2 separate regions of the Homo sapiens genome follow, and region 2 is linked to region 1. Evidence: fine-mapped expression QTL. A gene starts in region 1. The other region holds a variant in brackets. All regions are shown on one strand. Distances are between the middles of the regions.

Evidence for each region. PIP is the estimated chance that this variant, and not a neighbour inherited with it, causes the effect.
Region 2: its variant is the best candidate, but not a certain one, in a credible set for the expression of ACTL6B in cerebellum (GTEx, PIP 0.82).

What each region holds. Positions count from the first base shown.
Region 1 is chr7:100,654,924-100,657,827 of GRCh38, forward strand. ACTL6B (actin like 6B) reads right to left here and starts at 1,525. Exons shown (of 14, transcript NM_016188.5): 1 at 1,407-1,525; 2 at 880-956; 3 at 498-663; 4 at 96-196. The coding sequence starts at 1,431. LOC105375429 (a long non-coding RNA gene) reads left to right here and starts at 1,638. Exons shown (of 3, transcript NR_133946.1): 1 at 1,638-1,767.
Region 2 is chr7:100,927,439-100,930,342 of GRCh38, forward strand. It overlaps the pseudogene RPS29P15. Among named protein-coding and RNA genes, the nearest start is that of MUC3A, 21 kb to the right of the region's middle. RefSeq lists enhancers at 43-1,000, 1,001-1,957. The variant A/T (reference allele first, on the strand shown) is at 1,185.

The DNA of each region.
Region 1 (2,904 bases):
GAGCAGTGGCTTGAGGGGAGAGGAGGAGAGGTGGATGGTGGGAAGGAGGTGCAGTGGAGATCAGGGTTGGACATGAGGATGGAGGAGGCACTCACCGGAGCCTCGGACATGAGCACTGGGTGCAGGTTTGGCTCAGACTTGACGTGTTTGCTGTAGGTGTGATCCAGGATGGCTCGGAAGCACTCCCAGTCCTCGACTGGGGCCAGAAGAGCAGCGTGCAGAGACGCAAGAAGGCAGGCAGGGGACAGGGACAGGAAGAAAAGGAGGGAGAAAGGCCAAGCCCAAAGGAGGGTCAGTGAGTCCAGCTCCAGGGGAACGCCCCCCTTCCCAGAAACCTGGTGGGCCCCTGGGAAGGGAACCCAGCGAGAAGAACCCTGGCAGCCAGAAGAACCCTGGGGCTGCAAGGAAGACTCCGCGGGGAGTGGGGGCTGCTATGACCCAGATTGTGGGGAGCGGGCTCCTTTTCTGTCAGGAGGTGATGGGTGGGGGCCCCTTACTCATGCCATTCTTGAGGGGCGACATGACCTCCGCTCCATCCCGAGGCACGTGCAGGGCATTGGTGTCGATGTGGAAGATCTTCCCTTTCTTCTCTTTGTCCCCCTCCAGCTCCAGCCCGCCCCCCTCCTCCGCGGCCAGCAGCCCCACTGTGGTGGGGAAGTCAGCCTGGTGGGGAAGGGTTGGGGGAGTATTGGCAGGGAGAGAGGTCACCCTCTTGCCCCTGTCCAGCCCCACAGCAGGGTCCTCAGACCGCCCCTGGGTTTATTCCCATATTCCCGCTCAGCAGAGCTTCTGGGCGATCTGGGAGAGCCCTGGGTCACTGGAAAGCCTGAAGAAGGGTCCGAAGCCCCTAGGATTTGGAGAGGAGACTGGAAGGCTCACCTTGGGACAGTCCTCCCCAGCGTACCCAGCGCGGACTGAGAAGGAGCCAATGTCAAAGACCAGCGCCCCCACCTCATCTGTGCGGGGAGACAGGCCTGTAAGGGGACCTCCCCCGAACTCTCTCCCGCTAGGTAGCTCCGAGAGAAAGTCAGGGCAGAGCCACAGTCTCGCCACTTTCAACACCAGTCTGGGGCCGGTGGGAGCTGGGCCTGGAGTCCGAGGTCCTGGGACTGGGGGTGGGGGCATCACACCGCCAGGGTCCCTTCTTGCCCAATGGCCTTGCTCAGGGCACCCTCCCGACGGGAAAGGAAGGGGCCCGGGGCCAGGTGGAGGTGGGTTGCAAGGTAGGGCCCTGTGCGCGCGGGGCGTCTGGGGAGGACCGAGCGCAGGGGTGGCGGGAGACCCGAGCCTGAGACTCGACCCGCTCGTGCGCGGAGGTGACAGGCCCCGGGGTGCCCAGAGCTCGGATGGATGGCGCGGGTTTGGAACGCAGGGCTGCGGGAGCCGGGGGCCCGAGGCTCGCTCACCTCCGCCGTAGACGCCCCCGCTCATAGTGCCCGCTGCGCTGCTAGCGGCCCGTGGGCGGTGGCGGGATCAGCACCGAGGCGGCCGGACAGCTCCCGGGATCCCTGGCGGGGCGGGACTCTCAGCGGCCAATTGGGAGGCCGGATCCCCCGCTCCAACGGCGCCGCCGATTGGCTGCCAGGCGAGACAATGACCGACCGGGGGCAGCTGCTTTAAAGGGGAAGATACACTCTATTAAGCGGCCAGGAGGAGATGGGGCAGGGGGCACCTAGCAGGGACTTAGAGACCGTCGCTAAGGAACTGGCGGCAGAGAGGAGAGCAGGGAAGAGGCGGAGACCAGGACTCTGCAGGACGACTGATGAGGTCCCTATCCCCTTGCTTTTTATTTTTATTTTTATTTTTATGGTAGAGACGGAGGTCTTGTGATGTTGCCCAGGCTGGTCTCGAACTCCTGAGCTCAAGCGATCCTCCTCAGCCTCCCAAGTAGCTGGGATTACAGGCAGGTGCCAGCACGCCTGGATTAAAAAAAAATTTTTTATAGAGACGGGGTCTTGCTCTTTTGCCCAGGTTGATCTCGAAGTCCTGGCCTCAAGCGATCCTCCCACCTCAGCCTCTCGAAATGCCAGAATTACAGGCGTGAGCCACTGCGCCCGACCTCTACCCCCTTACTTTTTAAAGCAGGATTGGGGAGAGAGGTCCAGTTCCCAGAAGGGTTATCTATCTTCAGGCTGCTCTGAGCCCGGTTCTGCCACACCCAGGCCTAAATGGAATCACCAAGGTCTAAATGGAATCACCGGGAGAGGGAGGGAAGGGAAGATTGAGAGAGGGACCAAAGGGGGTGTGTCTCCATCTCTCTCTGTTTTTACCTTTTTTTTTTTTTTAAGAGACTGGGTCTTGCTACCTTGCCCAGGCTGGTCTTGAACTCCTGGCCTCAAAGTCCCAAAGTGCTGGGATTAAAAGCATGAGCCACCGTGTCCAACTTCCCTCCTTTGTCTTTCGTTGGCCCCTTTTTTCCTTGCCTTGCTTTCCCCCCCACCCCCCGCAGTACCTAGGCCTTATACATGTGTACACATGCTTACACATGTGTACATACGTTCACACACAGGCATTCAGCCCATCTGGCTTTAGCTTCCTTTCTCCATCTGTCTCTCTTCAGCGCCTGTTCTCCTGAGGAGGCATTTATCAACAAGAGGGTTTTTGTTTCTTTTCTTTTTGAGTTAGGGTCTTCCGTCACCCAGGCTGGAGTGCAGTGGCACACTTATAGCTCACTGTAACCTTGAACTCCTGGGTTCAAGTGATCCTCTCGCCTCAGCCTCCTGAGTAGCTGGGACTTACAGGTGCACACCACCACACCTGGCTTTTTTTTTTTTTTTTTTTTTTTTAAGAAAAAACTATGTTGCCCAGTCTGGTCTCGAACTCCTGGCCTCAAGTGATCCTCCCACTTTGGCTTCCTCAGTCACTGGGATTACAGGTGTCAGCCACAGCGCCTGGCTAACAACA
Region 2 (2,904 bases), 270 kb after region 1:
GCTTAATCTCTCCCACTCTAGGTTCCCACGCCGCCCCTAATCCCGCTCGAAGCAGCCCTGAGAAACATCACCCATTATCTCTCCATACCACCCCCCAAAATTTTCGCCGCCCCAACACTTTACCCCATTTCATTTTATTTTTCTTATTAATATAAGAAGACAGGAAAATCAGGCCTCTGAGCCCAAGCTAAGCCATCATATCCCCTGTGACCTGCACGTATAAATCCAGATGGCCTGAGGTAACTGAAGAATGACAAAAGAAGTGAAAATGGCCTGTTCCTGCCTTAACTAATAACATTACCTTCTGAAATTCCTTTTCCTGGCTCATCCTGGCTCAAAAGCTCCCCCACTGAGCACCTTGTGACCCCCACCCCTGCCCACCAGAGAACAACCCCCCTTGGACTGTAATTTTCCTTTACCTACCCAAATCTTATAAAACCCCGCTCTCCCTTCACTGACTCTCTCTTCACTGACCACCCCTCTCTCCCTTCACTGACTCTCTTTTCGGACTCAGCCCGCCTGCACCCAGGTGATTAAAAGCGTTATTGCTCACACAAAACCTGGTGGTCTCTTCACACGGACTCAAGTGAAACTGACCTCAAGTGATCCGCCCACCTCAGCCTCCCAAATTGCTGGAATTACAGGTGTGCGCCCCTGCGGCCAATTTTATACGTTTTAGAGGGATGGAAGTTACAGGCATACGTCAATCAATACGTGTAAAGTGTACATTTGTTCACTCAGGAATCATGGAACAATTTGGGGTGTGGGGCAGGGGGACTTCCAGATCATAGGTAAATTCCAAGATTTTCTGATTGGAAATTGGTCGAAAGAGTAAAGTTATGATCTAAAGACCTGGAATCAACAGAAAGGCGTGTCTGGTTTAAAAATAAGAGGTTGTGGCCTTTTACCTTGTTGCACTTCTGAGAGCAAGATGGGTCACCAGCAGCTGTACTAGAGCCACCAGTGAATATTCGGCCAGGGTTTTCATTCTTGTCACATCGGCCCAAATCGGCATGGTCTGATCTGTAAATATGCCCTCAATATGTACTGCCAGTGTTTCCGTCAGTACAGGAAAGATATCGGTTTCATTAAGTTGCACTAACTGACCTTCCTTGAAAGGTTTATCCAACGCATGTACCCAGTGAAAAACCATGATAGTGGCCGGGCACGGTGGCTCACGCCTG[A/T]AATCCCAGCACTTTGGGAGGCCAAGGTGGGCAGATCACAAGGTCAGCAGATCGAGACCATCCTGGCCAACATGGTGAAACCTCGTCTCTACTAAAAATACAAAAATTAGCTGGGCGTGGTGGCATATGCCTGTAATCCCAGCTACTCAGGAGGCTGAGGCACGAGAATCACTTGAACCCGGGAGGTGGAGTTTGCAGTGAGCTGAGATAGCGCCACTGCACTCCAGCCTGGCAACAGAGCAAGACTCCGTCAAAAACAAACAAACAAACAAAAAAAACCCCAAAAAACCATGATAGCTCTTTGCACATAAAATAAACATTTTTTAAAAAGATAAGGGGTTGTGGAGACCACCTGTTTTTTTTTGACAGAGTCTCGCTCTGTTGCCCAGGCTGGAGTACAGTGGCGCAATCTTGGTTCACCGCAACCTCCACCTCCCGGGTTCAAGTGATTCTCCTGCTTCAGCCTCCCGAGTAGCTGGGACTACAGGTGCACACCACCACACCTGGCTAATTTTTTGTATTTTTAGTAGAGACAGGGTTTTTCCATGTTAGCCAGGATGGTCTGGATCTCCTGACCTTGTGATCTGCCCACCTCGGCCTCCCAAAGTGCTGGGATTACAGGCATGAGCCAAGACCAAGGTTCTTGTTATGCAGATGAAGCCTCCAGGTAGCAGGCTTCAGAGAGAATAGATGGTAAGTGTTTCTCATCAGACTTAAAAAGGTGCCAGACTCTTAGTTATATCTCTCCTGAATCAGGAGAAGACCTGGAAAGGGAAGGGGACTCTCTACACAGTGTAGATTTTCCCTACAAGAGACAGATTTGCAGGGCTGTTTCAAAATATGTCAAAGAAAAATTTATTTTGGGGTAAAATACTTCTGTTTCTTTCAGGACCTGCTATCTGTCATGTGATGCTGTACTTCAGTCAGGTTGGAATTTGGTATCTTATTGCTACAAAGAGTCTGTTTTGTCAGCCTTAAGATCTCTGTGTTGATGTTAATGCTGGTCAGTTGTGCCTGAATTCCAAAGAGATGAGGGCAGAATGAGGCATGTCCAACACTCCTTCCCATCATGGCCTGAACTAGTTTTGCAGGTTTACTTTGGAATGCCCTTGGCGAGAAGGAGTCCGCTCAGTAGGTTGGGGGGCTTAGAATTTTCTTTTTGGTTTACAGGTGCAAAGCTTGTGATTTAGCCAGGAGATTTCCTGCCCCTCCCAAGGGGGCAGATTTTGCTTCAACCCTCCCTCACCATGTAATGAGGGGCTGGTCCTATCCCTCCCCCAGAAATACATGGCCTTACTTGTACCCTTACTTCCACCAGGAGTGAACCTTTGCCTGTCCTCAGGGGATGGGAAGGATTCCTGCCCCTTCCCCTGAGGCTTAAGTCCTTCTGCTTCTTGTGAGACAAGGTTCTGGGAGGTAGGAGGGGGTTCATGCCTGAGAACCACTGAGGGAGCCTCTTTCTTGTCTCATTGTACCTCCAATCTTTCTCATGAGCACCAAGAGGTGGAAAAGAGATTGCGAGTGAACTTGGGGTCTGCTAGATCCTGATGCACCCAGGGGGATTCTAAGTTGTCATGCTGGCCCACTCCTGGCCTCTGAGAATTCATTAAAATGTTGTTTTCCTATCACCTGCTTTTTTGGTGGCCACTTCTTCCTCCTGTGCTCTGACAAAGGTGGAACTTTTCATGTGTCCTGTCTCTCCTGAGAGGGTGCGGTCACT